3 separate regions of the Homo sapiens genome follow, and all the other regions are linked to region 1. Evidence: fine-mapped expression QTL. A gene starts in region 1. Each other region holds a variant in brackets. All regions are shown on one strand. Distances are from middle to middle.

Region 1 (10,875 bases):
TTTCTAGATGAAACTGCTGCACCTCAGATCATCAGGCATTAGATTCTCATAAGGAGCGTGGCAATCTAGATGCCTCAAACATGCAGTTCACAATAGAGTTCAAGCTCCAATGAGAATCTAATGCCCGGCTGATCTGACAGGAGGCGAACTCAGGCGGTAATGCTCCATTACCTGTTGCTCACATCCTGCTGTGTGGCCCGGCTCCTAACGGGCCAGTGACAGGTACCAGTCTGCAGCCCAGGGCTTAGGGATCCCTGCTCTAGAGAAAACTGAAAGCTAAGAAGGGGAATATGGAGTTCTGGGAATGAAGAGAGGGTTTCAAGTGCTTAGGAAAGTTCTCCCTGAGAGGACAACATCTAAACAAACACTGAAGGAGGAGCAAGCTTTGTGGATATTTGGGGCAAGACTATTCCAGGCAGAGAACAGCATGTGCAAAGGTTCTGAGGTAGAACAGTGCTTGTCATTTTGGAGAAATAGCAAAAAAACCAAACAGCTAGAGAGGCCTGAGTATGGGGGAGCATTTCAGGGAATGAAGTCAGAGAGGCAGTGGAGGAGACAGAACAAAGAGTCCTCAATATTTGTCAAATCAATAGTAATAAACAGTAATGAATACTAAGATAGCTAACATTTATTGATTTGTTTTAATAAAGAAAAACAACTAATTGCTCTAATACGTACAGAGTTGACTTTATGCTTTAAGACACATGTAGAAATAGGTGTAAACACTATGGGGTATATTTCCCAGAACAAACTTTTTTTCCCTGCTTTAACACAACTAAAACCTTTGCTAAATGCTGCAATTAAATTCATGCCCCCATGTATCTTAAAAATAAGACATAATTCCTCATAAATGTCAGATGCCTTACTAATTTCCAAGCTGTGGTTTTTTAAAATGATTTTCAAGTCTGTGTCAGTTCCACAAGGTTAAAGGGTTCAAATTGTAACATGAAAAGTTAATAAAAACAGTTTGGGACATTATTCAGAGTTCAAATTCTGCTTTAAACATACCATTTGATTTGTTTAATGAATTTTTTAACATAACCTCTTTCTTCTCTGAAATATTAATATATAACTCACTGTTTCTGAGTGTTACAAATTATATCTACTAGAGCCAAAAGATATTGTACATATTGTTCTGCTGGCATGTTCCCTTCTTTCTGCTGTATTTTCATTTAAAAGGCATCCTTACATATAGAAATAAGCATGCCAAGAGAGCTGGGCTTGATAAACAAAATTAATTAGTAGAAGCAGCAGATGTACACCTTTATAAAGAATGTCAGTAGGCTCTTTATTACTTGGTTTCCATTAGTTAGGAAGTCATTTGAAAATATATCCTAAACACAAAGAGATTGTTCAGTTCAACTCAAGGAACACTGAGCACCTTTGTCAGATACTAGGAAGACAAAGACTATATAGTCCCAGTCTCTGCCCTCAGGATCTTACAGTCTACAAGGCTAGCTGTCCAGATGAGACAACAGAAGGGTGAGTGCACACACTGGTACAGAAGGTGACAGAATAAATTTGTGCTGATTTTTAAAAAAGCCACTCACCTAAAACATCATCTATCAGCTGATCCTATGTCTAACCCAAAATAAATGACAGATGATTTAACAGCAGACCTTCTAAATAACAAATTAAGAGTTGGGCAGAGGGTTTTGAAGCAATTCTTAAGTATGCAAGATTTGAATCTACACTTGGAAGTTTCCTCAGAGATCAAGCGCTCATTTTGATTCTTCACTTAAATCACAAGGGAATACTTTAGCTAATAACCATTTGCAAATCTTGTGGTGGAGAGAGAAGCAGGGAGTTTTAGGTTGCACAAATTCATTACACAAATGAAGGGTATTTTATTCTACAAAAATGTATATCAAGGTAATAAATTTGGACTAAATCCAAACCTACGAATTTATACAAGTGGAATAAAAACTAATGATCAACTTAATGTCTTATTATGAAAGGTCAAAATTATGTGAAACAATCTATGTAAATATGTACCTTTAGTTAAACGGATCCAGAAGAACAGGGCATAAGGAGCCGAAATAATCCCAGCTCTGGCCACTAAACCCCAATGCCTGGACCTGGCTGGCTGCAAACAACGGGAGGGGTGGACACTTTTTTAAAACTTTAATTCAAGAAAAACACCAGATAGGCAAGCAGTTGCCCTACAAAGGACCCAGTATAGCTTTATGGGGTCACCAGACTCTGACACACAAAAAATTAATTAATTGTATTGATTAGGCTTATAAACATTCAGGTTAAGTTATACCATTTGTTTCCTAAAACCACACAATAAATAAAAGTCTAATACGAAATTGCCTATAACACAGATGGTAGCATTTTATCACAACCCTAACATTATAAAATTATAAAGATTTGAAGCCCAGTAAGAATCTAAGCAACCACACATGCCTGTAGTCCCAGCACCTTGGGAGGCCGGGGTGGGTGGATCACTTGAGCTCAGGAGTTCAAAACCAGCCTGCGTAATATGGCTAAACCCTGTCTCTACAAAATATACAAAAATTAGCCAGGTGTGGTGGGATGCACCTGTAGTGTCAGCTACTCAGGAGGCTGAGGTGGGAGGATTGCTTGAGCCCAGGAGGTTGAGGCTGCAGTGAGCTGAGATCGTGCCACTGCACTGCAGCCTGGGCGACAGAGTGAGACACTGTCTCAAAAATAACAATAATGATAATAGGTTTTTAAAAAGAATCTAAGCAATCACACTTGTTCCTAGAGAACCGCTCTCACAAAGTGCCCAGTTAACAGCCTGGATGACCATACAAAATCTAAATCTTTATTGGGAAAGATAAGTGACAGCTTTGGCCAGATTAGTACAGGAACATACTGCTGGACTGATTCTCACAGACGTATAGTATTAAAGGTGCACCTTCAAACTGTGAGTTGAGAAAAAAATAAAAATATTTAAAACATCCATTATAAAAGTCCTACGCATTTAACAAAATCTTACGTATTTATTACAATTTTACAATCTGCCTAGTATTGTGCTACAGTACCAGACAAAATCACTTTAGGGTTTTGGGGATTTTGTTTTTTTAAACAAACTGGTATGTAATATAAACTTAGGAACCACCACCACCATCTCGAGTATCAATGTTTCAGAATGGAGGCATAGTTCAGTGAAAAAAATGCCGGCATTGGTTTTAGTTTTGATTCTTGTTTCACCAGAAAGCATGGTGGTTGGGGGAGCTGTCAAAGTACTCCGGATAGACTCAGCGCCATTAAATAAGCTCAGGCATATACGGCCAGGAGCAAGGGAGGAGAGGAAACACTGAAACAACTCGGCAGAAAGCTGGCCCTTGCTATTAAAAAAAAAAAAGCACTAATTAATGAGGACGAATGAAATAGGGACACCCAGGGCTGGTAAAGGGGGTTGCTGCTTTAATATGCTGGACAGGCAGAGGGTAAACTCGGTTGTGGGTTAATTAGGTCTAACTCCAAGTCAAAGACCAGCTCCAGAGAAAAAGCAGCCTGGTTGAGAGTCTACCGGCTCAAATACACAGGAAGCCACACGATTCCAACTTGCGGCGCCAGCAGGACACTCGAGAGGAGGTGGCAGCACCGCCTGCTCGCCAGCGTCCAAGGCCAACCTCGGCAAACGTGCCCCGGCCATTCCGCACGAGCCCCGAACGCACACGCCGGGATTCCAATTCCGCGCGGGAGGAGCGACGGCAGGGAGGGCAGGGCCCAGCGCCGGCCGAGGAGCGGCTTTGTCAAAAGGCAGCTGGAAAGAACTGGCCCTGCACACGGCTGTCCCCTAAGGCGACCCTCGGGGTCAGGTCACTTCTCACGGGGCCAGCAGAGTCAGGAAGTCTGGAAACTAAGTGAAATGGGCTGGGGGGCGGCGGAGAGAAAGTGCAGAGACGCCAGGTTAATTCTCTGGTTTTGGGGGAAGGAAGGAGTTTGGTGGGGGAGCGACAAGGAATGCAGTAACCTACTTCACCCCCAGCCCCGCGGGTAGAGCCGGACTCCGCGGATGGCAGGCGGCGAGCCCGACTTCCTCCCGCGCTCCGTCCCCCCAGGCCCGGCCCGCCCCGTAGCCCTCGGCCCGGCCCGGCCCGCCCCGCAGCCCTCAGCCCGCCCCTGGCGCCTCGGGTCCCGCCGCCAGCCGGACGCGCTCCACTCACCCAGCTCCTCCGCCTGCAGCCGGAGCGGGGCGGAGACCGCGAGCAGCAAAGCCAGGAGGCCCCGCCCGGCAGCCCGCGCCAGTGCGCCGCCGCCGCGGGCGCCGGGCACCATGACCCCGCTGGGCGCCAGCTTGGCAAGCTCGGCCTCCCCTCGACGGATCCCGAGCCGCAGCTGCCCGGGCCGGGCCGCCTCCTCTGCGGACGAGCGCGGCGCCGGGACGGGGCGCAGTCGCTGCCCCGCACCGAATCCCATTGGGGCGGCTTTCAGCCCAGCCCTGCGGGGGCGTCTCCCGCCCGGCCCCGCCCCGCCCCGCACGTCGGCCCCTAGAGGAGGAAGTCGCGTTCCCAGGCAGTGACCGACGGCGAAGCCGGAGGCGAGCGAGGCGCCGCCCGCGCTCCCCTCCACGTATCTGGCGCGCCCTGCTGCGCTCCTTCCTTGCCTTCCTCCCCACCTGCACCAGTACACGTGAACCTGCTAGGCAGCAGGACACCTCGCCGCCGGACCCGCCCCTCGCCGCGTGGTGCGGGAGTCATTCCTAGATGGGCTGAGCCCGCGGCGGTGCCTTGGGAGGCTGCCCCCTCCAGGGTTTTGCCAGCCCGCGGGGATGGGCATGCCAGGGATAGCAACACCGAGGGACTCGAAATATTTTGATGATAGGATGATGACAGTGCCAAGTAGGACCTTCACTGATTTATTCACTCATTCATTCATTCATTCAAAAGTTACTCAGTTCAGCAGTGTGCTTGTCAGGAGCAGGGCTAAACCCATGTGGCACTTGCAGACAAAAATAATCAGGCAAGTATTCAATGCAAATTGCAATCAGTGACATGAAAGGTGCTGTTGAAGCACATTTAGAGAGCTGTAATTAGATGGCGGGTAACAGGGGTGAGGGCGGGAATCAGCTAGGAAAGGCCTAAGTGGCATCAAAGCTGAGATTAAAGCAGGAGCCAAAACAGACAAGTTGTGCAAAGAAGCTGAAGGAGGAAAGGGCCAGGTAGCTGGAGCACAGTGAACAGGTGGGTACACGGCCAGATGTAGAAGCTAGTGTACAGAGTAGGGGCCAGGACGTGCAGCTAAATAACCTAAAGGATGTTTAACTTGGTCCTCGGAGTAGTGAGCAGCCACGGAAGGTTCAGAAGGGGGAAGGACTCCACCCGATGATCCTCTTGAGGAGTTGCGGAGAAGGGTTTGGGGAGGACAGATTGGAGACTGGAGAATTACAGGGTTATCACCGAGTAGTTGAATAGGGTGGTGGCAGTGGAAAATGACGAGGACAGATTAGATATGTATTTTAAGGACTATCTCACGTCTCTGGTCCCCTGTAGTCCCCGTTTACTTCCTCTGCGCGCTGCCCTCACCTTCGCACCACCGCGCGGCACGCTGAAGTTTCACCTAGAGGTGCAGCGCAGGGAAGCGTGGAGGCGGAGAGGAAGCAACAGCCCCTCCAATGGCAAACATTGGCCCCTCGTGATCTTTGGATACCCTGGACAGACTCATTTCATACATGCGTTCCTTTTTTCCTCTTCCTTTTCTTTTTTTAACTAAATAAACAAGCTGATAAAATCTCAAATGAGATTGTCTTTGGGGCTTTGCTTTCTCTGAGGCAGCATATCTTAGATGAAAGAACTTGGGCTTTAGAAATGGAGGGGATCCCGGTTTGATTCTGGACCTCAGCTTTGTTGAAGAGCTGAGGTCCAGAATCAAACTGGGTATATATGTGTATATTCAGTGTATACTGAATTTGTATATTAAGTTCTATCATGTAGAGAAAGTACCTAACTGAATGTGTATATTGGGTTCTAGCATGTAGAGAAAGTACCTAATAAACGGTAGGTTTTATCATTTTTTAACAGAAAGTAAATTCACACCCATAAAAATATTGAGTATTCTTACACTCAAAAACACAGAACGATACTTTGATACGTTGAGTCTCCTCCTAACTTCAGTTTTCGCTTTTTCTTATTTCTCTTCATTCTTTCTAAGTGAGTTTGGGCAGCTGCTTCCAGGCTCCAACAGGTTTGACACTGTGAGCTATGAATGAAGCAAAGACAATGGGGAGTATTGTTTAACAGTGAGGAATTCATAATGTGAGGCAGGTGGGCTTTCAGGGGTGACTTTTTTTTTTTTTTAACTTCAGTCAGTACCTTGATGGGAATGGAATTATCTGCTGTACACCTGAATCCTGAGCCAGATAAGGGGAAAGATTTAGGATCTGGTAACAATGAAGAAACAGAAAGACCAGCCAGATCCTATTGATTTCATCATGCCATTCCTTCCTTGAAATGTAAAATCTCTAGTTAAGAAAGTCATAATAAAAGAAAAAAGTGAAAATACAACAGATTATAAAATATATATACTGGGGTGTGTGTGTGTATACATGTATATGTATATGTATGTATCATTTTTAGAGAAAGGGTCTTACCATGTTGCCCAGCTGGAGTGCAGTGTCTATTCACAGGCCTGATCACAGTGCACTACAGCTTCCAGCTCCTGGTCTCAGTCCTCCTGCCGCAGCCTTCTGAGTAGCTGGAACTACAGTATATTTTTCTATACAATGAAATAAGCCTTGTTGAATTAATATACTTGTTTTAATCTTGAGACGATTCCACTTTGATTTTTTAAAATGATGCATGATGGAATCTAAGAACCAAGTTCCATTAAGAAAAATTATGCTTATTAGGATCTACCTATAAACATTTCACATACTAAGATGGGAAATATCTCTAGGGAAGTGTCTCTCATAGGCTATTGCACTTCTAACCCATCCCCCCACTTGCCATCCAGTCCTTATTTTGCATATCTTACTGCAATTTATGCTTACATTTGCCAGCTCTTCTGTAAAAATACATAACAGCTGGTCAGGAGCTGCCTTATTTTATATTATAAATTATGTGTTCTGTCTTGCTTAGGTAAGACAGAATTTAAACAGAACTGCAAACCTAGCATGATTCTAAACAGACAGCTTCAAAATAGATTGTAGTCCAGTTCAATGACCTAATTCAATTTATCCTTAACATTTAGTAACCCTGCCTGTGACTCTATGAAGAAAACTATCAGCTATAAAATTGAAGCCCTTATAGATGTCTGATATGGTTTCAATCTGTGTCCCCACCCAAATCTCAAGTTCAATTGTAATTCCCAATGTTTTAGACATTTTCCATATGTGAAACAATGTGACAGCAGTACAATAAAAATAAATACCTTCTCTTCCTGATTTATGATCTAATAATAAAAATTTGGGAAAGTTAATTATACAGACAAAATGAATTATATCGATTGATAGGCACAGGGATAGCAGAGGTACAGGGTACCATGGAATCACAGAAGAAGGGCATATAACCTGGATTTTAAAAGTCTGGCAGGGCCTGGGAGAGGTGAAGATATTAATTAGAAGGAAAACAATGTTTGTCAGACAAGGAAAAGATATTATTTTTAAAGCTCAGAAACAGAGATCACAGGGTGCTTATGAAGATTGAACCTGGCCAGGCACAGTGGCTCACACCTGTAATCCCAGCACTTTGGAAGGCCAAGGCAGGTGGATCACCTGAGGTCAGGAGTTTGAGACCAGCCTGGCCAGCATGGAGAAACCCCATCTCTACTAAAAATACAAAAATTAGCCAGGCATGGTGGTGGGTGCCTGTAATCCCAGCTACTCAAGAGATTGAGGCAGGAGAATCACTTGAACCCAGGAGGCAGAGGTTGCAGTGAGCCGAGATCATGCCATCATACTCCAGCCTGGGCGAAGAGCGGGAGCGAGACTCTGCCTCAAAAAAAAAAAAAAAAAAAAAAGATTGAGCCTACATTATCAGTGAACTTGAGCCTGAATACAGAGTGGGAGGCAGAAGCAGGATCTCAGGGTTCTGGGGGGTAGTGGGAAGCAGGGAAAGTGTAGAAACTTGTTCAGATTTGCATTGTAATAGGTGTCAAGATTACGGCAATAGAGGAGCAATCAGGCTCAACTTTGAATTCAGGGATTCAGTGAATCCAGTGGGCAGGGTGAGGGAGTCCATGATGAAAAATCACTAGGAGGAGACATCGGGGTAGAGGGGATTCTTGTAAACTGGCTTAATGGGATTCTTGCTGAATGCAGGTCAAGGACTTATATGTCAAAGATAAGGGAGGAGAAACTTGATCCAATACAGAGGGTGGGGTATTCTCTCTGAACTAACTTAGCAGAATTCTTGCTAAAGCTGGACTAGGCAGGCCAAAGACAGGGTTCAAGGACAATGCCTAGATAAAAAGAAGGCTCAGGGGAGCTTGACTGTTTGGTCACAGAGAGTCTTTGTCACCCCCATGTGGATATTTTTGCCACAAGCACTAAACAGCTAGGCTACAAAGGTCAGACCCCTCCCTCCCTGTGGCAGAGCTCAGCAGGGCACAGTCAACACTTTCCTCCCAAAGTGGCCTTTCTCTAATTTTCATTTCTGATAAAACTTACCATTGTCCTACGATTCCTTCTTTAGGCATGCTATTGAGGCAAGCATGCCTCTCCTATCCAGGCTTTCTCCCTTATTCCGTCATTGTGTTTGATTCATTATTCACTAATTTACGGTATCACTTTCCAGGGCCAGCCCTATTTTTAAATTCTAGTTGCCTCTGTACTACATGCGATACATTTGTGTCATTTCAAGAAGTAGTTTTTGAAGAAGTTTCATATACTTGATCTGAGTTGGTTCTTATGACAACCCCAGGACAGCTGTTTCCTAATTGTGTTTCTCTTTCTCTTCTTTCTCTTTTCTAACTTTTCTGTTAGGTTAACTGTTCACTCTTTCATCTTGCCCAGAGACCACATGTTGAAAAATGTCCTTGGGAGCTTGACCTTGTAACCATGTGGCAGTACTTTCTCTTGGTCTCTGCCATCCAGGGAGCAGGAATTTGGGGGTTCATGTCATAGTTATTCCCAAAATTTATGCCTTTGCAAACTCAAAATTGGTTGCTCTAGACTCCTTCTGGGAAGTGCAATGGAAACTTCCCAATGTTGTAGCTTAATAGTTAAGGCTTATGGGTTTCACCTGTGAGATTATTTTTGGTAAAGTTCAAAAGCCAGAAATATTGGCAGTTTGGCATGGCTAAAGGTGGTAGTAAGAGATTTAAAAGGACTTTAAAAAAAAAAAGAGTGCTATGGTGAAAAGTCCACTTAATTGAAAGTGGATATTCAAGTTCTAACAGCCTGGGACTCCTTGGGAAAAACAGAGGAGATGCCCCAGATCCAGCACTGGGAAAAACCTCTGTTTTCCTCAGAGAAATCAGTAATTGAAAGTGGATAGATCTCTCTCAAAATCTTAGGCTCTGTTCTGTTTTGCATTACATTGTGTTATCTGATGTTTTGACTCTTGGGTATCAAAAACTACTTTGTGTATAATAACTAGGTAGGAAATATACTTTTAGGAAAGGCTAATGGCAGTTATGGGCGAATACTTGACTCTTTGGTGTTTGGATTGGAGAAGTATGCTCTTGGCCACCTGGAAGGTATGCAGATGTGTCTCCCCAGCCCCCACACACCCAGAGATAAGACTCCTATGAGGGATGGGCTAATCACAGAATGGACTGATTGGCTTTAGATTGCTTTGCAATGAAATGCACAGTAAAATCACTGTACTGTCTTTTTCCATAGTGTTTCTCATTTTGGGGATCCAGGATCTGGTATAAAATGGGACCCTTAATTTTAGGGGAATCTGTTTTGCCTTCCAGCTGTGCCTGCTTATTAGGCTGTAGAAACTGCCTGTTTTCCTGTCCCTGTTCCACCCTGAAGCCAGTAATTCAATTAAGAAACACGGGCAAATGAAAAATCTTACAACTAGTAGATCTTCTTCTATTTATCTGTGTTGTGCATGTGATGTTTATATATACAGGAGCTCTAATTAATTGGCTTAAAAAATAATAAGTGCTTAAACCAAACATTTCGTCAGAAAAGTAAGAAGTGTAATGCCTTTTAGTTCACATAACTTAAGTAATCTTTGGGAAATAAAAACAGTTTTACATGCAAGTTGTGTAAGGAAAGTGAAATGTGTTTTTGGTAAAGATTATATAAGAAACCATGGGAATGTGGATTTTTTGCCTAGATTAAAAGGTTAAAGGATTGTTTTAAGTTAGATAGGAAAAAGCTGAAGATTTGGGCAAGTTGTGGAATGTTTGTGAAAAATTAATCTTGTAAAAGAAATTCTGTATATGAACATATTAGCTAAAAGTTAAAGGAGTATTATTTAGTTTTTTCATAAATTGAACATTGGAATAAAAGCACAACAGGTTTTTTCTTACAACACTAGTCTGCTCTGTCACAAAAATTGTAAAGGATTAGAAAAGGTTTATAAGAATCTTAGTGTTATGGTCATAATGATTAAGATTGGATAGATTTGTTTATAAGGTTTTATTAAGAATTAGGTTTGACATCAATAGTGCACTAAGGCAAGGGTAAATTTGGCTCTCTCTCTTGAACAAGATTTTCATGTAATATTTTAAAAAAAGAAAGTTTTTTGTCTACCCTTTTGAATAAACTGTAGAAAAAAAGAAAGAGACAGATTGTTTGGAAAGTTAAGTTTTCCCTCTATTGATGAGTAAACGTTTTTGTCTTTTAAAAATTTTTGTGGCCCGGCGCAGTGGCTCAGGCCTGTAATCCCAGCACTTTGGGAGGCCGAGGCAGGCAGATCACCTGACATCAGGAGTTCAAGACCAACCTGGCCAACATGGTGAAACCTGTCTCTACTAAAAATACAAAAATTAGCCAGGCATGGT
Region 2 (10,875 bases), 19 kb after region 1:
TTATCTATGCAACTAAACACCACCTGTTCCCCAAAAACTATTCAAATTAAAACAAAAAAACAAAAAACACAAAATCAGTGTGGGGAGGCTGTGGTGTTGTGATATGTATTGGTTTTTATCCACAGTTCCTGACTCACAACTCCCATCGTCCTTGTTGCAATCTTTTGTTATAATGTTGGGTTTGTCAGGCCTCAGGGGCAGGCCTCTGACCTTTTCCTGCCCTCCTTTTCCTCTAATGTCCCCCTACTTTTCTGATTGTGGGTCTTAAGACCCTCCCATGAGAGGGTCCACCCTATACCCTGGAGGAAAGAATGCTGACGTCATGAAGCTTCCATAAAAACCCAAGAAGAGAAAGTTCAGTGAGCTTCTGGATAGCTGAACATGTGGAGGTTCCTGAAGGGCGGCATGCCCAGGGAGGGCATGGAAATTCTGCACCCCTTCCTTCGTAACTCACCCTATGTGTCTCTTCATCTGCATCCTCTGCAATGTCCTTTATAATAAGTGGAAAAAAAAAAGAAATTGAAACTGAAGGGACAGACAAATGTGCAGTGCTTGATAAAGCAAGCCGGAGAAGAGTTCCAGGCTTTACTGTCTTCAGAGTTTCTATTTCTTGCTCAGAGGCTGGGATTCCACTGTGCCTTGAGGCATTCACCTGGGTAATGTGGAGAGGAGGGGAATGTGGAGGCTCAACATCCATGTGTCAGGCAGAGCTAGGGTCCTTGTACTCTGGGAAAATTCTGGAGTCATGCACATCTATAACAGTACAACCATCATTCAGAGCCCACAAGATAAAGATGGAGAACTCTCCACTTCACTCATAATAGCCACAAACTATTGACCTGAGTGTTGGGATCAGACCCAGAAGCTGAGTCTCAGGAGGCTCAGCTAATAGGCTGCAGTGCCTCACCCTTTTTGTTCTGGGCCCCTCCATCTGAGCCAGGAACCAAAGTAGAAAGAGCTGGAGAGGGACCCTGGGGAGCAAGTAGTTAACAGAGATCGGACAGCAGGAGGCAGAGGTTACCATTGGTTGGGTAGAGGGCTGGAGGGTCTTCCAATACTGAACCTGATACTGACCTTCAGCCTTTAGGCTGAACTGAGAGATTAAAACCTCTGAGAAATTAAAACCAATATGGTCAGAGCAGGGGAGGCTGAGAGGAGGGAGTAGGAGAACTGAAGAGCCCTTAGCACAGCCCTGTTCCTGCCCTCAACTGCTATGCTTATGTGATATATGACACAGTGAGAAGGTGCTGGACAGGCAGTCAAAGAAAACTGGGTTCTAGCCCTGGTTCCACAACTCCATGACCTGGTGCAAACCCCTCCCCATCTTTCAGCCTCAGTTCACTCATCTCTACAAGAAGGAGGCATGGATGACCCGGAACACCTCCTGCGTGGCTGTCAGGATGCTGTGAGACTCCAAGGAAGTGGAGGCAATCTCTTGGGATGTCTGGAAAGTATTACTGGAAGCTTAAAAAGTAATAGAAACAATAAAAATGTGGTTCCCATCCCCTGGCCTCCCACTGTGACTCTCAGATGTTCAGACCTGAGATCTGAGAGTTCTCAAATACAGGTATCTGACATGGATGGGGCAAGAATAGGACACCCATGAACACTTTGCAGTGCCCACAGAGAGGAAAGGTATGAAGCATGGGACAATGAGAGTATCCATTCAAAAGTCACTCTGGTGGCGGATGTTGCTAATGCGGGGGTTGTTAGTGTGTGGGGAAAGGGAGTGTACAGAAATTCTGTACTTTCCACTCAGTTTTGCTGTGAATCTAAAATTGCTCTAAAAGTAAATTTTACTAATTAAAAAAACCTATCATACACTTTTCTATAGTCTTTTATCTCCTACATTTACAATTTGTATCCTGAGAAAAGTTCCTTATTTAGTTAAATACATGAAGGATTGAATTTTCAGCAAGTTTGAGAGCATAGAGGCTTTGCCTTTTAAAGAGATCTTTTTTTTCCATTTTCTCTGAAAATCTTAATGTTGTGTCATGTGATTTAAACATTTTCATGACTCCAGACCAAACGAAAATGATCAATATTCAGAGAAAAACAAGAGAGATAAAAATCTTGAGATCAAGAAGTTGAATAATCTTTCTTAGCAGAGATTTCTAAGTAAATAGGGAATCCTTTATGAGGTTTAATTCCAAAGTCTTTATTCAGACAACTATTCCCTTAGTTAATAGAACTTCTATTTGGATAGAGAACATAGAATTAGGAGATTGAGAGGCAGGTTATAAAGAATCCAGAAGCCCTGACACTTGGTTAGCAGAACTCCTGTTGGAAGCCAAGCAGTCTGATCCCAGGCACTTTCCTTTTCCCCTCTCCTTGCCCCTGTCTTTATTTCTTTCTTTATTTTTTGAGACAGGCTCTTGCTCTCTCTCAACTAGGCTGGAGTGCAGTGGTGCAATCGTGGCTCACTGCAGCCTCAATCTGGGCTCAAGTAATCCTCCCACCTCAGCCTCCTGAGTAGCTAGGACCACAAGTGTGTGCCACCACTTCCTCCCTGTCTTGGCACCCTGCTCTTTACTGCCTTCTCAAACTTACCAAATGAGATCTTTAAGGAGACAAATTTGGCAGACTGTGGTTAAAATATGAGCTAAACAGTTTCTCCTCCACCTCCTTTCCACACTCTTCCTCTTTGCAGTTTTAAAGGGTCCTCCATGCTTATTCTATGATCCATTTTTACAAAGCTTTGCTCTCTTGTTGCAGCTCAGAGATCTTTTTCAGATGGTAACTGATCACATCTTACTGAAGATTTATTTTTTAAGAGGAGCTATTGAAAACTAAGAATATCAATCCTGTCTCATTTCCTCAGCCAAGGTTTTCTGTCCCTCCTTGAAGGTGAACCCAGTTGGCTTTATTCCAAAGACTTCCCCTGAGTGCTGGGACACATTTGATATTCTTCCTTATTAACAATGGGACTTGGAATTAAGTACTATTCATCAGATTTGGGGCCTGGGACCCATGACATCTTTGTACCTATATTCTTAAGTTTTCTTCTCTAGTTATTGAGTGTAACTGGGATTCAGAGCATAAGCTTAGGTTTTCTGGAGTCACAAGACCTTCCCTGGGAGACTAAGAGCGTCTTGCTTTTCCTTGGAAGGAGGCTAATCTGCCTGATCTCCAATTAGAACGTAACAGGGAACTGCCAAAGACAAAATGGCACAATGTTGGGAATTGTTGAGACCAAGAAAATTGTCACGACTAGGCCACAAGTAGAATTAGGGTTGGGGGTTTCCAGAGCCAAGCAAACTAAACAGTTTGGTTTGGGGGTAAAAAAATCTGATCATGTGGGATAGCAAGGCCCCTGTTATGCTTCTCATGCATGTCTGACTGAGGTATTAAAAGAAAGCGTCAATGCTCACAGAATAAAAGCACAACACTGGGAATGACAGGCTGAGGAATTGAAGCTTTTGTTGGAGTCTCAGCCAGGTACTTCTGCACACTATACTAGGTCACTGGCTCTCTTCTGCTAGTGCACAAGAGTGACTAGATTATTATTTTAGAGACAACTGTTTCCTTTCTGCCTTCCTGTCTTTCATGATGGCAAAGCCTATTTCTCCCTTGTTCTTCTGTATGTTCACATATCACAGAAATCCCATAACCCTCTTAATTCGCTCTGTGGGAAATCTGCTCTAGAAATGTACAATGTGCTGTGTTCTAAAAATGTGTTATATAAAAAGAAGCTATTAGACTTCAGCTTCTGGGAAGATGGAGTAGCCACACTTTTCCTTATTCCTTCCTCTAAGTATAACTAAAAATGCAGAATATTATATATAGTACAAACATAAGACTTTAGAAGGAAGAGAGAAGGCAGACTGCCTAGAGATATTGGGATCTGAGAAGTGACACAGTGGTGAGTCACCTGGGTTTCCTTTTTGCTTTACATACACCAGACTTAGAACTGAATAAGCCTGCAACCGGCAAACACCAGCAGGCACAGACAAAACAAAAATGATAAAATAAAAACCAACAAAAGCCAGTCCTCTCTAGTCAAAGGATCAGAAAAGGGTCAGCAGAGCATGAGGGAAAACTTTTAGATAGTAACTGCTCTAATCCATTCAAACACCACAGTCAAATGTGGCCCTACTGTCACTCACACCAGCAAAGTGGGGCACCTAGACTTTCACCCTCTTGAGGCTGTAACAAAGCATCCCAACATCCCCTCCACATTGTCTCCACTGACTCCACAAATGTCCCCCCACCTCAAATGTCAAGGAGGCCATGTGGGGAACCTGGACTTCTACCTCCACCTGAGAGCTCCATGAGGCCGTACATCACTCTTCTGCTGGAGATGCATCAGAGAGAAAGCCAGCTAAAAGAGAAAGTATAAATAAATTCCTGGGTCTCATAACATAATTCAGCCATGTGTCACTTAATGATGGGGAAATGCATTGTTAGGTGACTTCGTCATTGTTTGAGCATTTTTGATATGGTTTGGCTCTGTGTCCCCACCCAAATCTCATCTTAAATTGTAATCCCCACATGTCAAGGGAGGGACCTGGTGGGAGGTGATTGACACATAGGGGTGTTTTCCTCTATGCTGTTTTCATGATAGTGAGTTCGTTCTCAGATCTGATGGTTTAACAGTGTTTGGCAGTTCCCCACCCATGCTCTCTCTTACTCCTGACACCCTGTGAAGAAAGTGCCTGCTTCCCCTTTGCCTTCTGCCACGATAGAAAGTTTCCTGAAGTCTCCCCAGTCATGTGGAACTGTAAGTCAATTAAACCTCTTTCCTTCATAAATTATCCAGTCTTAGGTAGTTCTTTACAGCAGTGTGAAAATGAACTAATAAAATTATAGAGTGTACTTACACAAACCTAGATGGTATAGCCTACTACACACCTAGGCTACATGGTACACGCTCCTGGGCTAAACCTGTACAAAATGTTACTGCACTGAATACTGTAAGCAATTGTAACACAATGGTAAGTATTTGTGTATCTAAACATATCTGAACATTAAACAGGTACAGCAAAAATATAGTATTATCATATTATTATTATTTCAGACAGATCCTGATGTGTTTAAAAATGTATGTGGAAGAAATATACTGTATAAGACTATCTTATTACAAAAGAAATAAGTAAAAGGATGTAAAAGGAGGTAACATTTTTATACTTCACTTGAACAGGAAAAATAACGGCATCAGTAGATTATGATTAAGATCTCTCTCTCTCCATATCTTGAATAAAAGGTATAGAGAGATACACTCAAAAACATTATAGATAAATCCAAATGAAATTCTAGAAAATGTTTAAGTAATGCATGGAAAGTCAGGGAAAAGAAAATAGAGAAATGTAAAACAGAAAGAACAAATAGAAAAGAAAAAATATAATGGCAAACTTAAGTCACCCCATGACCCAAGTACATGCTGTTTACGAGAAACTCCCCTCAAATATGATGATATGGGCAGGTTGAAGACAAAAGGATGGAAAAAGTATATCATGCAAACATTAATCAATGAGAAGCAAGAGTGGCCATATTATCTAATAAAGTGACTTTAGAGCAAAGAAAATTATCAGGGATAAAGACATTATACATATATAAATGATAAAAAGTTCAGTCCAACAGGAAGATGTAGCAATACAAAATATGTGGATATCAACAACAGAGCCATAAGATATGTGAGGCAAAAACTGATAGAACTGAAAGAAGAAATAGACAAATACATAATTATAATTAGAGATTTCAACACCCCTCTTTCAGCAATTGATAGAACAACTGTACAAAAAGTCAGAAATTACATACAAGAACTCAACA[C/A]CATCAATGAACAGCATCTATTTAACATTTATAGAACACTTCACCAACTAACAGCAGAACACATATTTGTTTTCAAGTGCTCACTTATGCTGCCTAGGAAATTTTTGGTCGGTTCATTGGAATTTTCTACATAATCAACTATGTCATCTACAAATAGAGACAGTCTTATTTTTTTATTTCTTCCTTTACATATGCTTTTCTTTTCTTTTCTTTTGCTTGTTTTGGTTATTTTTTTCCTTGCCTGCTTTGTTTTTGTTTTTGCATTACTGAACTGACTGGAACTTCCAGCACTCTGTTGAATAAGAACAGTAAGAGGAGAACACATCCTTATCTCGTACCCAATCTTAGGAAAAAAGCATCATGCTTTCACCATTAGGTATAATGTTAGCTATAGATTTTTTTGTGGATTTTTTTTATCAAGTTGAGAATGTTCCCTTTTATGTTCCCTTTTATATCTATTTTTCTGAAAGTTTTTTTCATTAGTGGCTGCTGAATTTTGTCAAATGTGTGTCCTGCATCAAATAATATGACCATGTAAATTTTGTTTTTCTTAAGTCTGTTGATATGGTGAACTATACTGATTAATTTTCAAATATTGAACCAGCCTTGCATCCCTGGAATAAACATAGTTATGGTGTACATTTTTTATATATTGCTGAATTCTATTTGCTAATATTTTGTTAAGGATTTTTGTGTATATAGTCATGAGAAATATTGGCCTGAAAGTTGTTTCTTCTGTTTTGTTTTATATTGTCTGTTTTGGTATGAGAGAAAAATTAGCTTTATAAAATGAATTGGAAAGCGTTCCCTCCTTTTCTCCAAAGGTTGTGTATAATTGATGTTACTTCTTCTTTAAATATTTGGTAGCATTCTCCAGTGAAATCTTCTGGGCCTACTGACTTCTTTTTGAAAGCTTTAAAATTATAAATTCAATTTTCTTAATAGCTAAAGGGCTATTTAACTTATCTTTTTCACATTGGGTAAATTGTAGTAATTCTTGTTTTCCAAGGAAGTGGTTCACTACATCTAAGTTGTCAAATTTATGTGTGTAGAGTTGTTTATAGTAATGTATTTCATCATTTTCCTGTTGAGGTCTGCAAAATCTGTAATGATATCCCTTGTTTTATATATTGATGTTGGTAATCTATATATTCTCTCTATTCTTTCTGTCAGTCTTGCTGAAGGTTTGTCAATTTTGTTGATTTTCTCAAAGATCCAAATCTATTTTACCTATTTTTTCCATTGTTTTTCTGTCTTTAATTTTTTTTTTCCTTTTTTTGAGATGGAGTCTCACATTTGTCACCCGGGCTGGAGTGCAGTGGTGTGATCTCGGCTCACTGCAACCTCTACCTCCTCGGTTCAAGGGATTCTCCTGCCTCAGTCTCCTGAGTAACTGGGATTACAGGCGCCCACCACCACACCCAGCTAATTTTTGTACTTTTAGTAGAGACGAGGTTTCGCCATGTTGGCCAGGCTGGTCTTGAACTCCTGACCTTAGATGATCCACCTGCCTCGGCCTCCCAAAGTGCTGGGATTACAGGCATGAGCCACCACGCCTGGCCTTCTGTTTTTAATTTCATTGACTTCTGTTCTTATCTTTATTCTTTTCTTCTTTCTATTTGCTTTAGTTTTAGTTTGCTCCTCTTTTTCTAAGTTCTTGAGATATTTCTGCTATTGATTTTTAGTTTGATTTCATGGTGGTCAGAAAACACATTCTGTATGACTTCAATTATTTAAAGTGATTGAAGTTTGTTTTATGGCCCAGGATATGGTCTATGTTGGTGTACGTATTGTGAGCAAAACAAAAACAAAAACAAACAAGAACCTTAACAAACACAATTTATCCAAAAATTAACTCAAAATGGATTATATCTTCAGTGTTAAAACTATGAAATTTTAGAAAAAAACATGGGAGAAAATCTTCAGTGTCTAGGGCTAGGTAGAAATTCCTAGACTTGTTACTTAAAATGCACAATCCATAAAAGGAAAAGTTGATAAATGGAACTATGTAAAAATTTTAAAAATTTGCTCTGCAAAAAAAAAAAAAAAAGCCTAAGAGGATAAAAAAACATGTTACAGCATGGAAAACATATTTTCCAACCACATATCTGACAAAGGACTCGTACCTGAGCATATAATGAACTCTCAATATTCAACAGTAAAAAAACCGAGCAATCCCATTAGAAAATGGGAAGAAGACACGAAGAAACATATGACATAAGAGGATATATGGATGGTAAACAAGAACATGTAAAGATGCCGAACATCATTATAGCTTAGGGAAGTGCAAGTTAAGACTATATGTTATCAGTAATACTTATCATAATGACTAAAATAAAATGGTGACAACACCTAATACTGGTGAAGACAGAGAAACTGATGCTCATTCATTCCTGGTGGGATTATAAAATGGTACAGCCACTCTGGAAAATAATTTGGCAGTTTCTTAAAATACTAAACATGCAACTCTATACAAACCGGCAATCACACTCATAAGTGTTTATCACAGAGAAAGGAATACTTATATTCACATAAAAACCTGTACGCAAATGTTTATAGCAGCTTTATTCATAATATCCAAATTCTGGAAACAATTCAGATGTCTTTCAATGAATGAATGAGTGGTTAAACAGTGCCACATGCATATCATGGAATACTGCTCAGCAAAAAAAGCAAGAAGCTATTGATACATACATCAGCTTGAGTAAATTGCCAATTCATTCCATATTGTGCTGAGTGAAAAAAGCCAATAACGAAACATCATGTGCTATATGATTCTGTTTATATAACACTTTTGAAATGACAGAGTTGTAGAAATGGAGAGTACATTTGTGGTTGCCAGGTGGTAAGGGGTAGGGGGCAGCAGTGGTGAAGTGGTGTGGCTGTAAGAGGGCAACAAAAGGGATGCTAGTGGTGATGGAAATGGTTGTGTCTTAACTGTATCAACATCAATATCCTGGTAGTGATATTGCACAATTGTTTGTTGATGGTATCAGTAGGAAAAATTGGGTAAAGAGTGTACACTAGATCTCTCTACATAATTTCTCACAACTGCATGTGAATCTAAAATTATCTCAAATTTAAAAGTTAAAAATTTTTTTAAAGGTTGTTGAAACCTTTAAAAGCACTTAAAAGTGCTTTAAAAGCACTTTTTTTTTTAAAGGTTGTTGAAACCTTTAAAAGCACTTAAAAGCACTTAAAAGTGTGTTAAAAGCACACACTGTGCTGGAGGACCACAAGGCAAGACTACAATGAAAGGCCTTGCAATTTCCATGTCAATCTAAAGATGATAAATTAGTTTGAGTCTTTGCCCTTGAGATTTGGGCTCAGGCCTGATTTAGGCTCGGCTTGATTTGTGGGTTTCTAGACAGGTCTGGACAGCCCATTTTGTCTTCTCCCATTTATTAATCTACTGCTTAGAGTAATTTGGTTCATATCCACTGAAGAAGTTAGGGGAGGAGATTCTTATTCAACTCCTATTCTGTACAGTTACCAAGTCTGTTTGCCCACACAACCTTGATACTAAAACAAACCAACCTTTTTTTTCATCTAAAGCAAAAAGGTATTATTTGTATGTAGATATGTAGGTTATATGAATCTTTTATTAATGAGATCATAGATAAACTCATCATGTAACTTGATTGTGAGGGGCAAAAATAAACTTGAATAGCCTATCCTAAACTGTCATAGGAAGGAATATAGGCTCATTTTGGTATCAGAGAGAAGAAAAATGCAACCATAAGGCAATATCATTTCAGAATTTTCTTGCAAAAAAATTAAAGGTTTCTATTTTGTAAAGGATGCAATGGACAAAATTTATAGAAGGATGGAAAGATTGGGAGAAGATATTTGTAACTCCTAAACACACACCAATGTTTGCAACATGTTTGTATCCACAAATTCCTCAGAAAAATACAGAGAATGTTACTTAAAATGAGAAAAATAAATATGACAATCATTCACAGAAATCCAAATGCTTAACGAGTGTATAAAGAGCTGTCAAAATTTCTTAGTAACAAGAGAAATGCGAATTTTCAGTGCAATGAGATACCAATTTACAGTGACGAGAGTGGCAAAAATAGTTGGATAATACAACATTTGGTGGTGGTGTTGGGTCACAGGCAACCTTCTGCACTGCTGGAGGGAATGTAGGCTAGTATAGCTTATGGACAGTGATTTTGCAGTCTTCAACCAAATTAGGTACCCAAAGCTCTACTACCCTGCCGGGATCATAACAGGACATGAATGAGGAAGTAGAGGAGTTAGGATGTCCATCACTTGGAATGAGCAAGTACAACGTGGTGGATGCACACCATGGAGCACAATATCACATTTAGAAGCAATGAACTAGATGTACATGTAACAGCACAAACAGGTCTTTAAAACATGGTATAGAGTAAGAAAAGTAAGATGCAGATTGGAACCATTATATGTAATTTTATAGAAGGGTTTAACATACACAAACAACAATACTTTTTTTTACAAGGTTGCACACAAATTCAAGAAAGCATATAAACCACATTACAACTGTTGCCTGTAGCTGGAAAGAGAGCAGGGATGGTAGATAAATAATACATATGTAAATAAACAAAAAGGGGCTGGGTATGGACCTTGATGATGCCGTGCCTTGAAATGAGTATGATTAGCTGGCACCTGAGGTAATTAAAGGAGGAAGAGATGAAGAAGTAAGGGAAGGCTGGTTATATGGAATTGAAAGCTGAGTAGATTGAATGCAAACAGCAGCTAGGAGGCACTGGTAAATTTAGTGCTCACTTCGGCAGCAGTGCATATGCTAAAATTGAAATGATACAGAGAAGATTAGCATGGCCCAGCACAAGGATGACACGCAAATTTGTGACGTGTTCCACATTTTTTAAATTTCCCACTCATCATCCAGGAAGAATCAAATTTATTCATTCACACAAACATTCATTTACTGATTTAGTAAATAACTTTTCCCTGTCCACTGGAAAAAAAAAAGAGGTATTGGTAAATTTAGAAAGACACCTGAAACATGCATAGCTCAGCTCTTTGTCTTTCTTTTGGGAGCCAGCCTCCGTTGTGAGGACTCGCTTAGGTTTGGGCCTCCTAGGATTGAGTGGGCAA
Region 3 (10,875 bases), 65 kb before region 1:
GGCTCACGCCTGTAATCCCAGCACTTTGGGAGGCCGAGGATGGCGGATCACGAGGTCAGGAGATCCAGACGATCCTGGCTAACACGGTGAAACCCCGTCTCTACTAAAAATACAAAAAATTAGCTGGGCCTCGTGGTGGGCGCCTGTAGTCCTAGCTACTCGGGAGGCTGAGGCAGCAGAATGGCATGAACCTGGGAGGCGGAGTTTGCAGTGAGCTGAGACAGTGCCACTGCAGTCCAGCCTGGGTGACAGAGCCAGACTCTGTCTAAAAATAAATAAATAAATAAATAAATAAATAAATGGAAATACTCAGGTATCAGAATCAAAGATAGGATGAGAAGCTCTAATGAGCATCCAATAGGATTTCCAGGAGAAAATAAAGAAAACAACCAAAAAAAAGGGCTGATCATTTTCATAGTTGATAAATGCTAAGATTCAAGAGGCACAAGTCCTGAGCAATGTGAACAGAAACAAATTCATAGCTCAATACATAGTAGTAAAATTGCAGAATACCAAAGACAAAATAAAAACCTTTAAAGCCCCTAGGGGAATTTATCCCAGAACAAGGAGAGGCTGGGAGCAAGATCAGTGGGAGACAGGGGATCTGTAGTGGGATGTGAACACAGCAGTGTGGGTGGGTGTGCAATGTGGCATGGGGTGACTGCATGGGCTGTGTTTTGGGCAGGAAATACTTGCAGGTTGGGGTGTTTGTATTCACCCTAGCTTCTCATTGGAGGGATTCAACTGCTCTCAGATCTGGGGGAGAGACTAGGCATTCTCTTTCAACTCAAGAAAGTACAGGGTAAACACTGCTCTCAGAACCTCAATAACTATTTGGTACGTGCATGAATGCAAGATAAGCATTTTAGGAATAGTGAGGTCAACCCGGTGGCCACACTTGGACTGCTGTGACTGGTCAGAGTGGGGAAAGGTCTCATAGCTATTCATGGTATATACAGTTGTGCCTACAAATGTGATTTCATGTTAAGAATCCAAAGCAGTATAAAATAAACACAAAACAATCTCTCACATCCTTTCTATTTTCTAGGCTGACTGTAAACGTTAATGAACATTTAAATAACAATAATAAAACCCAGAGCAAAGCTTCAGGAGCCTGTGTAAGTGTAGTCTTGCTTGTCATAGCAAATGTGTTTCAACCGCAAATTTAAGAAGTGGCAGAATACAATCTTTGCCTCCCAGTAGGATTTGATAACATAAGTCAGACAATTAGAATTGTCTCATTCACGCCTTATCATATATGCTGATATTGCAAAACACCAAAAAAGAAAGATGTAAAATTTTTCTGCCCTTATCCTCTAGTTTAGGTTTAGCTGTGTAGGGTTTATCAGACCTTTCCACTCACCCAACCTGTTCTACAGAGTCTACCCTGAGGAAGTGATGATCCAAAAAAAAAAGTCCTGTTCTCCCACTGGTCATGATTAGATCACTAGTGCCGCAGAAGAACTGTGATAGATGAAGACAGCTCTATTGTAAAGAAGGGCTGTAGATCTAGGCCTATGCTTATGGTCTAATATTCCAATATTAAAATTCTGTAAACAGCCCACTGAAGGCTTACATTAGAAAAAAGGACCTACTATAGACAACACTTTGATAAATGTTCCAACTAATTTTTATCAGTAAGTTTTGGAGGAAGAAAGCACGACAACACCATTTTCAAACATGAGGAAACCGAGTCTCATCATTATAGAAGCAGCCAGACTTCTCTTCTGTGGTAGATTGGGGTCTGGCCTAATCTGGCACCAAGCTCTTTCTCTTTCCACTGTGGCACCTGCCTTTTTACAGAAGCTGAACCTTGAGTGCCTCTAACACCCCAGCGAGCAGGGCTGACTAGTGAGAGTCAGGGGCAGTTTGGTTTGGCATAGTTTATTACAATTAGTGTGCGCATAAAACCATGTAAACTCTACAAAGTAAACCATTTCCCCTCCACACTAACCAGCAGCTAGTCTGCCATGACCTTCCAGCACCCCCATTATTTTAACATATATACATTTCACAGGATGTAATAACCACACAAATAGGGTTATAATACATTCTTCAGGGAAAAAAATTTTTGGTCCATATTTTCTATTAAAAAAACACACACACTTCCCTCTTTGGCAAAAGAGGTTAAATCTCCCATAGTTAACTCACAAAAGAAACTCAAATAAAAACTACTGAGCATGAGGTACAGCTGATGTCTGGACTGTTCTGGAATTACAGACGCCTCCTTGAGGGGAAAATCATTTCTTATAAAATGAGATCAGTTTCCAACAGTTTCATGTCAGTAGAAAAGCTCGATTTAGACTTGGTCAGAATCACTTTTGCATGAACATGTTCCAAATAACTTTGTTTTTCAGAGGACAGCGGAAGTCACGAAAATGTGCTACTTCTGAAGAAAGTCATGAAAATTGTGGCGTCTGACCTCAGCAATATTTTTAATCTGAGGTACGAAAACATCTGACACAGCCATTCACACTGTAATTCCTGTGCCACCTTCATGGTCACCGGAGCTGGGCCGACCTCTTCGCATCCCCCTCTGAAGTGGAGACTAAGGAAACGGGCAGCTGCTGAGGTGTTGTTTCTTTGCTTGTTTTTAAATCTACAGTCATAATTGCTAAATAAACAACCACCCTGGTGTGCTTTTCATGCTTCAAGTAATTCATTTCTTCCAGGAGAAGAATGTTAAAAATGCTTTCAGTTCTAGTTATCAAAGGAGAGGAAATGACTCAATAACAACAAGACTAGGTTTAAGCAGACCTGCTGCTAACACAGTATCAGATAATATACTGAAAAAAATGAACATACTATTTATATACATTTTGCAACAGCTGCATTTTCCCACTTAACCTCTGTGCAGAACTAAAATCTGATAGAGCAAACTTAAGTTACTTTTATTATTGTTAAATACAACTCTGTACACATTACACCTTTAACACCAAAGCAGCTCAATATCAGTCAGAGGAATGAAAACGCCATCTGAAAATTTTCATTTTTCTAGCCCAACAAAACCCAACAGACGCACCCTAAGGGTCAGCACGAAACCAGCTGCACAATTTTGTAAACAGTATGACAGGTTGTCTCTAGGATCCTACTGGATCACACACACACATGCAAGTGTACACACACACCGATACACACGCACACTCTGGACCAGCAGGCTCCCTTCTTCCAGTGCCTTGTGACAGCCCGACGCTCAGTACCACAGCAGGCTTCTTTCACATTGTGTTCACAAAAGGGCAGTCATGGCCGTCTGGTTGAGGGGTGTGAGGCAGTCTCTGGGGGCAGAATAGCTGTCACTCGTCCCGGGATGCGTTGGGGGCTTCTGAGAGTCAGGGTGCCCGCTTTCGGTGGCGAGGGCGCTGACAGCTTTGGGCCGGTCGTAGCCCCTGTCCGCAGGCTGTGCGCTGTGTGGCCTTTGATAGTCTCCGTCCTGGGCGCCCACACCCGCTACGGGGGAGAAGCCGCCCGAGGAGAGGGAGTGTTTGTGGCCGGGCTGGGGCCCTGGGACGCGGTAGCCGCTCTGCGCAGAGAACGTGTGGGCGCGCAGCACGTGCCGCTCCACGATGGGCGTGGCGTACTCGGGCTCCGGGGGCGCCAGGGGCAGCGCGTACTCGTGGCGGCCGGCCCGCTGCGGGCAGTCATAGTGGCCGCCGGCATCGGTGCTCACCCCTGCCTCCTCGGCATCCGTGTCCATGGGCCGGAAGGTGGAGCCCTTCCTCGTGACTGTCCCGGTGCCAATCATGAGGGGCTGCTGGTAATCTGAAACCACAAGACAGATGGCAGCTAGCGGGCACCACACACGGGCCGGCCTGTCAGTGGCAGACGGGGATACTCTGCTTCAGGTCGTGGTGACTGACTTTCCCCCCGGGTGCCCTCAGGTGTCCCAGGCACTGCGGAAAACCCTGATGTGAAAGCCACAGAAGCCACCCGCAGGCAGTACACAACCGCACCGCCTGCTCAGGAAGCTTCGCAGGGTCTTCTCAGAGATGGGGGCGACGACGACGTCCTGGGGCATGGGGACATACTTCAGGGAGGAAGTGGCTCTGAAACTGGCTCTGGAGAAGCTATGGAGGTGGAAGTCACACAGTGTGGAAATGGAGAAAAAAACAGCCTCGAAAATAGAGTTGATATGGCCAGAGTATGAGGGACACAGAGTAGTTTGTTTAATAGGATATGAGGACCAAAGCAACAGGTCAGGGCCTAGTGGTGACAGTGAGGATGATGCCAGGAGCTCCCATTTATAGAGCTCCTACTCTTTGCCAGGCGCTATTCCAATAGCAAGATGTTAATAATCTTCAAAAAAATCCCGAGGTAGGAACTGTTACTCCATTTTACAAATGGGAAACCAAGGCAGAGAGAGACTAACTTTTCCTAGGTCACACAATGGGGCGATGGAGTAGGATTCGAACGCACATCCTGAGTATATGCTGTTAGCCACGCGTTAGAGCATGGAAAAGCATTGATTGTCTTGCTAGGAAGTCTGGTTTAATTCTATGGGAAACGAAAGACTGGCACTTTCAGAGGTAACTGTGGAGGTTGACCCAAGAGGAAAAGATCAAAAAGTGAGAGGTAAAAAAGCAAAGAGAAATGCACATAGAAGTCACAAACTAGGAAAGAGGAAAAGTGACCCTTTGGGACAGGAATCAGGAATTTGTTACCAATGAGAGGTGGGGTGTGAGGAAAGCCGGGAGGCAAGGACTCTTTGAGGCTGGGATGTGCAGTCGAGAAGCCATTAGACAAGGAATGCACAGAGCATCTGTGGTGAGGGTTAGGAACA[A/G]TGGATTCGATTGTGGTTGCTGAGGAACGGGTGACATCTGCAGGTGGAGGTGTCCAGCAGGCTGCTGAGAATTATGGACTGGGGACTGAGAGGGAAGTCTGGGTGTGAGAAGCAGCATGGACAAACATGCAGGGAAGGGCACTGCTGGAAGTTGGGGAGGGTGTGGGACTGTTTAGGGGAGAGACTGTGGTGAGTGGGGGTGAGACAGAACCCGGGTCATTGCACATTTAAGGAGCCTGAGGATCATTCAGGGAGGAGGGAGGAGAGACTGAATTAGAAGCTGAAGGAGAATGAAAGGCATAAGACAACAGAAATTAGGTTCTCCCTTCATGTCACTTCCAAGGAACAAGAGGATGGATTTTGGTTGCAGAGGATGCTCTCCTTGTCCACAAAGTGACTCAACCAACCCTTAGGCTGACAACTCCCAGTCACTGATGTGCACAGGCGTCACCTGGGAGCTTCTAGTTCTATGGCCTCCCTTTCTAACAAGCCCCCAGGTGATGCCTATACTGCAGGTCCTCAGGCTGCACGTGAGGAGGGAGAAGCCAGAGCGCAGTGCTACTCAGAGCATGCCCCACAGAGTCCTATGTATCTGAGAGCTGTTTTTAGCAGTGCCATAGAGACAGGTGCAGAAATTGAGACTAAGTGTCAAGAAACTACTCTTAGTTACTCTTTATTACTCTTAATTTTATGTCTGTTGAATCTAATAATAAAAAATTAGAGCTTTGTATTTTGTATCTTTAAAATTTCCTTATTACTAGTATTTTATATTGCATTTTACAGTGTATTCATTCATGATGGAGTAGAAATTTTAAAAAAAGAAACAAAAAGCATTTCCCCATAGATGGTTTGGGAAGCTCGACTCTTGATGTGGCTTGTCAGGGACACTGAGGCCCTTCTCATACTGAGAGAGTTCCTTTATTTCCTATCTCACCTTCCTCAGGGCAGGAACTGTATTTAATTCCTCCTTTCAGCCCCTCTGTACCAGTGCCTTAATCAAAGCTTTGGTAACAAAAATAGATTCAGGGCTTCCAGATACAAGTAGTACATCAGGGCTATCACTATGGATGTCACTATATCCCCTGCAGGTGAAAAGACTGGCTGAATAGGGCTTTTAAGTAATATCTCAGTGTCAGTTTGTAATTCTGTGCAGAATGCAGAAAAAACACATTTCAGATTTACTGGACCCTATCTAAATAGAAAAGGATTTTGCCTTATTTCTCTCCTGTCTCCCTCCCCCACAAGCAGCACCTCCAATCTAATAGCACAGTCCTAGAAATATGACACTTACCTGCCATATCACTTGTGATGAGATCTAACTTTTGTGTCATCTCCTTCTCATTATCATAGCTGATGGTAAACTCAGCTGACTGATGTCTGGCAAAGGGATATTTAATCTGCTTCCAACAGTCTGGAATAAAGGTAACATAAACCAAATGAATATGTCAGAAATGTAATGCGCGTCCTCCAGAACATGTTCCTTGATGAGTCAGAGGTCAGGCTGCCTCCTGACAGCTGACAGTGATCAATGTCCTCCTCAGGTGTGTGTGCTAAGAACAGCATGCCAAGGTCATTAACCACAACAGCAAACACTACTCTAACCATGCTTTCCGCTGTGCCTTTAAAAGGTATTTTGCCCTCATCAGGTCCCAGATTCTCCCTTTGTGAGATCATCTGGGTATGGTCTCCGACAATCTGCACTGGCATGGCATCTGTGAGGCAGAGGAGACACTGCAGCTGGTGTTTAGACCCTGGGGAGGTGGAGTCTCAAATGGTCCCTGAGCTTTCTCAGGGGTCCTGCCCCACTGCCCTCTCTCTCTGGACCATGGCTAACTCATTGCTTGGGCACCTGTGTCTGGGAAAGTGAGAAAAAGACCAGACGGGGCTGGTGTGCAGGATTATCTGAAACCTGCACACCAGCCCTGCCTGGTCTTTTTCTCACTTTCTCAGGGTGGAAAGTACAGCACAGGCCTGCAGATGCTAACAACACGGGCCTACTTCAGTTCACTGATAAGGCTTTTGTCATACCTCCTTGATGGCAGACAGTGTCGTGGCCTAAACTCCAGTGGCCAAGAAAAAAGGATGTTGACAAATGATAGGGGATGACATTGAACAAAAGTAAAGTGGCCATTAAAATAAAGAGACAGAACACAATAAATTTCTTCCTTATAGATATGCTACTTTAAAGGCTACAGGGCTTATGTCTTTTAACCAAATAAATGTGGGCCACTGGCCTCCTTATGCTTTCAATCAGCAGATCCTGTCCCTTCCTCAAAGACAGATAAAATTGTAGATAGAGTTTTCAACCAACCTGTTTTCTGAGCCTCTGCTGATCCATACGGACTTCCTTTCTTCTTCTTCCTATCAAGACAAAAAGTCCTACTGAATATTTATAAGCCAATGTATCTGCCTCTCTCTCCCTATATAACATAAGGATCATAATAGTACTTACCTCATAGGGTTGATGTGAGAATTAAATGAGATGGCAGCTGCCATGTGCTTTAGAAAATCATACAAATATGTAGAATTATCTATAAATTTATCTCATTTATAAGAAAGGTCACAAGATTTCACTAGAAGAATATATACTAATCTTATTTTGCATATTAGAAATCAGTGCCTTATTAAGTTTATCACTAGCTCATGCAGTCATCCTGAAGCAATTCCTCATGACCACATGGTCTCACTTCATCTCTACTATACTCCAGTCCAAAACTGTGGGTGTCTTTAGAAGCATTTCATACAAGCACATTACACTAAGGCATGCTTTAACTTATGAATATCTACCTGAACCAGAGACTTTTGTACCTTCTCTCATGATGGCAGAAACTATTCTTCATTCTATTTGTACTAATATACACATTATAGATTCTGAAGTTGCTTAAAATATAAGAAGAGAAAACTTCAGAATACTTTCCATTTTTTGTTTAGATCCAACATCTAACATTTGTCAAAATAAACATGGATCTCAGGGTTCTGGAAGAGATTCAGAATTCATCTGGGTAAACTATATTTTATACATAAGGAAACAGGCTTGGGGAGGCTGAGTTACGGGGCAGCTTGGTGATACCCCAAGCAGCCTATTTAATATTCCTTTTACTCTTCAGGGAGGAGAAGCACAGATACTTCTAAAGCAATATATCAATTTCAGGATACTTCAACAATACTCAAAGGTTAAGTCTTTACCAAAGGTCTCTAAATGACAAGAACTGCTTATAAAGTAATACATGGTGGGGTGCGGTGGCTCATGCCTATAATCCCAGTGCTTTGGGAGGATCAAATGAGACCAGAAGTTTGAGACCAGCCTGGGTGAGAAAGCAAGATCCCATCTCTACAAAACATAAAAAAATTAGCTGGGCATGGTGGCACATGCTTGTAATCCTAACTACTCAGGAGGTTGAGGCAGGGGGTTTGCTTGAGCCCAGGAGTTTGAGCAATCTCACCACTGCACTCCAGCCTGGGAGACACAGGGAGACCCTGTCTATAAAAAAAGATTAATAAAGTAATACTCGATCATTTCTACTTTTATCTAACTTGTTTGTAAAATATAAGTTAACATTTTATTTTGAAAGAAGCCATGCTGCTTTTGTACATATGCATTTCTGAAGAATAAACTTTTTGGTTTTTTATTGTTCGCATAATTAGAGAAGAAATTTAAACATGTAAAGTCACCATACTTTCTAAAGGCTGCAAAGATCCCCATTCCAGCAAACACCAGGACAACAAGGAGCACCAATGGAATAGCCACCGTTGTAATGTTTATTCCTAAAGAAGACGGAAAGCCATCACGTTACAACATAAATGACCAACAACCACTTTTCATGATTTAAAACTGAACATGGAATTGAAAAGTCTTTAAGCATTTAATATAGGGGGAAAATGAATACATGTTAGGCATTTACTGATATTGGAAAGCAAAAAGAAAGGATTCAAAATCCTGGCTAAAGTTTGGGAAAGTAAAATTTCTCCCCCAGCCCCCCAGAGACAGTTTCCAATGTTCCTCAGGGACTAACAGGCACACTGGGCTTGTTGCTTGGCCCATATTAAACTCCAAAAATCTGAAATGAGGGGAGAGTTTAACCCCTCCCCCACCCCTCAGGTGAGAACTATTTAGACAGGTAAATGATTTAAGCACAGTGTGGAGCTCCTACTTTGGCTCAAGCAACACATTTCCCCAGATGGCAGGCGGGTTTGGACCTGTACCATAACAATAGTCTGGAAAACTGGGATCCTCGTTACAGAGCTCTGGGGCTGCGGACTGAGAGGAAGTGCAGCCTGATGACCTAAAACTGCATTTCCACTATGTTGCATGAAACACCACATCATGTTTTCCTGCAACTCTTTCTGCTCTAAAAAAAGGACACTTTGACAGCCACCAAGGCAGGCCCCAAGTTTGTAGAAAATACACAAAGTAAAGGAAAAATATTTGCTCTTCATCTTTCTCTTCTGTGATCCCTGGGAAGAAAATAAAGGGATGCTTAAGAGTGGAAAAATGCAATTCATGAAGAAGGGGAAAAGGGATTTAGATGAAAACCAAATTTGTGTATAAGTAACAGAAGTGTTATTATTACTTCTTTTTCTTTTTTTTTTTTTTTAAGAGATGGAGTCTCGCTCTGTCACCCAGGCTGGAGTGCAGTGGTGTGATCTCGGCTTGGGCAACCTTCGCCTTCTGGGTTCAAGCAATTCTCCTGCCTCAGCCTCCCGAGTAGCTGGGACTACAGGCGCATGCTGCCACGCCCAGCTAATTTTTTGTATTTTATTAGAGACGGGGTTTCACCATGTTGCCCGGGCTGGTCTCGGACTCCTGAGCTCAGGCAATCCGCCCGCCTCGGCCTCCCAAAGTGCTAGGATTACAGGCATGAGCCAATGTGCCCGGTAGCGGTGTTATTTTTAAGAGTGAAAATTTGGGGAAAATCAAATAACTTAAAGCATCCAACAGCAGGGGAATGGTCAAGTAAATAATGGTTTATCCATGTGAAAAAATACTATAAAGACATTAATAATTGGGGTTTTCAACCTTCCAATAACATTGGAAAATGCTCATAATACAATGTTAAATGAAAAATATATGCTACAGAACAGAATAATATGATATGCTACCATTTTTGTCTTAAAGTTAGAAACATAAATATAGTTGACTAGAAACAGTGAGATTTGGTGATTATCTACGGATACTGATTTATGACTAATTTTTGTTTTCTTATTTGTGTTTTTCTAATCTTTCCAAATTCTTATAAAATTGATATGCAAATTATTTTATATTCTGAAAAAATGTACTTTTAATGTTATTTGAATAGATTATATACTTATATGTTCAAAATGCAAACCGTATACAAAAGTATGGAATGGAATGTGTCCCTCCTACCTCTGTTCCTCCTTCACAGAAAGCCGCATTATGTTTTCTTGAAATTTTTCTAGAGATACTGGAATGAATATTTATTCTTTGTTTCTCCTTTTTGCAGAAAGGGTGGCGTGCTACTTAGATAGTTCTATATTTTGCTTATTTTTTTTAAGTTGCCACTATATCTCAGACAGCTTTCTATATTACCAATTTCTATATTTCCATTTTTTTTTTGTATGGCTGCAGAGTGTTCCACTGCATGGATGTGCTAATGTTTTATTTTTCCACAAAATATGTACCTAGTGTTTGAAGGGCACATAAGTTCATTCCTAATCTTTTTCTATTTATAATACTGCAATGAAAAGCTGTAAACATACATCATTTTACATATGTGCCAATACCACTGGATCATCCACCTCCAATGTTTATATGACAGAGAAAAAGAAATTTTGTTGAAGTTACTGATATTGGGTGGGTTACCAGTTATGCTCCTTATGAAACCACAGACAATCACGGCTCTACCTGTGGATGTTTCTTCCGAGGGGATGGGCCTTGTGATTGTCTCATCTTCTTTCTTAGTTGAAACACTGGTGCTTTGACTTGTCTTGCGCCACACCAATGAATCATTACCTGAGAGAGGAGGGATGTCGGGAAAACCACATGAGTAACAATGATAGGCGAAAAAAAATATGACCAAACTTGAGTAACTCACTGGCTTGCCCTGAGCCCTACCTTGTGTAATCTGGCAACCAATGAG

The links.
Region 2: its variant is fine-mapped to the expression of DCBLD1 in whole blood (INTERVAL, PIP 0.98).
Region 3: its variant is fine-mapped to the expression of DCBLD1 in naive CD4 T cells (Schmiedel 2018, PIP 0.95). The same link has a PIP of 0.9 or more in cerebral cortex.

Annotation. Positions count from the first base shown.
Region 1 is chr6:117,476,161-117,487,035 of GRCh38, reverse strand. DCBLD1 (discoidin, CUB and LCCL domain containing 1) reads right to left here and starts at 4,362. Exons shown (of 15, transcript NM_001366458.2): 1 at 4,143-4,362. The coding sequence starts at 4,254. RefSeq lists enhancers at 3,327-3,376, 3,407-3,456, 3,467-3,546 and silencers at 3,907-4,486, 8,845-8,894.
Region 2 is chr6:117,457,502-117,468,376 of GRCh38, reverse strand. It overlaps the pseudogene RNU6-253P. Among named protein-coding and RNA genes, the nearest start is that of DCBLD1, 20 kb to the left of the region's middle. The variant C/A (reference allele first, on the strand shown) is at 5,770.
Region 3 is chr6:117,540,791-117,551,665 of GRCh38, reverse strand. DCBLD1 (discoidin, CUB and LCCL domain containing 1) reads right to left here. Exons shown (of 15, transcript NM_001366458.2): 10 at 10,851-10,875; 11 at 10,641-10,748; 12 at 8,455-8,542; 13 at 7,089-7,138; 14 at 6,069-6,188; 15 at 1,869-3,759. The coding sequence ends at 3,227. Among named protein-coding and RNA genes, the nearest start is that of GOPC, 56 kb to the left of the region's middle. RefSeq lists enhancers at 3,376-3,425, 3,436-3,495, 4,046-4,135. The variant A/G (reference allele first, on the strand shown) is at 4,778.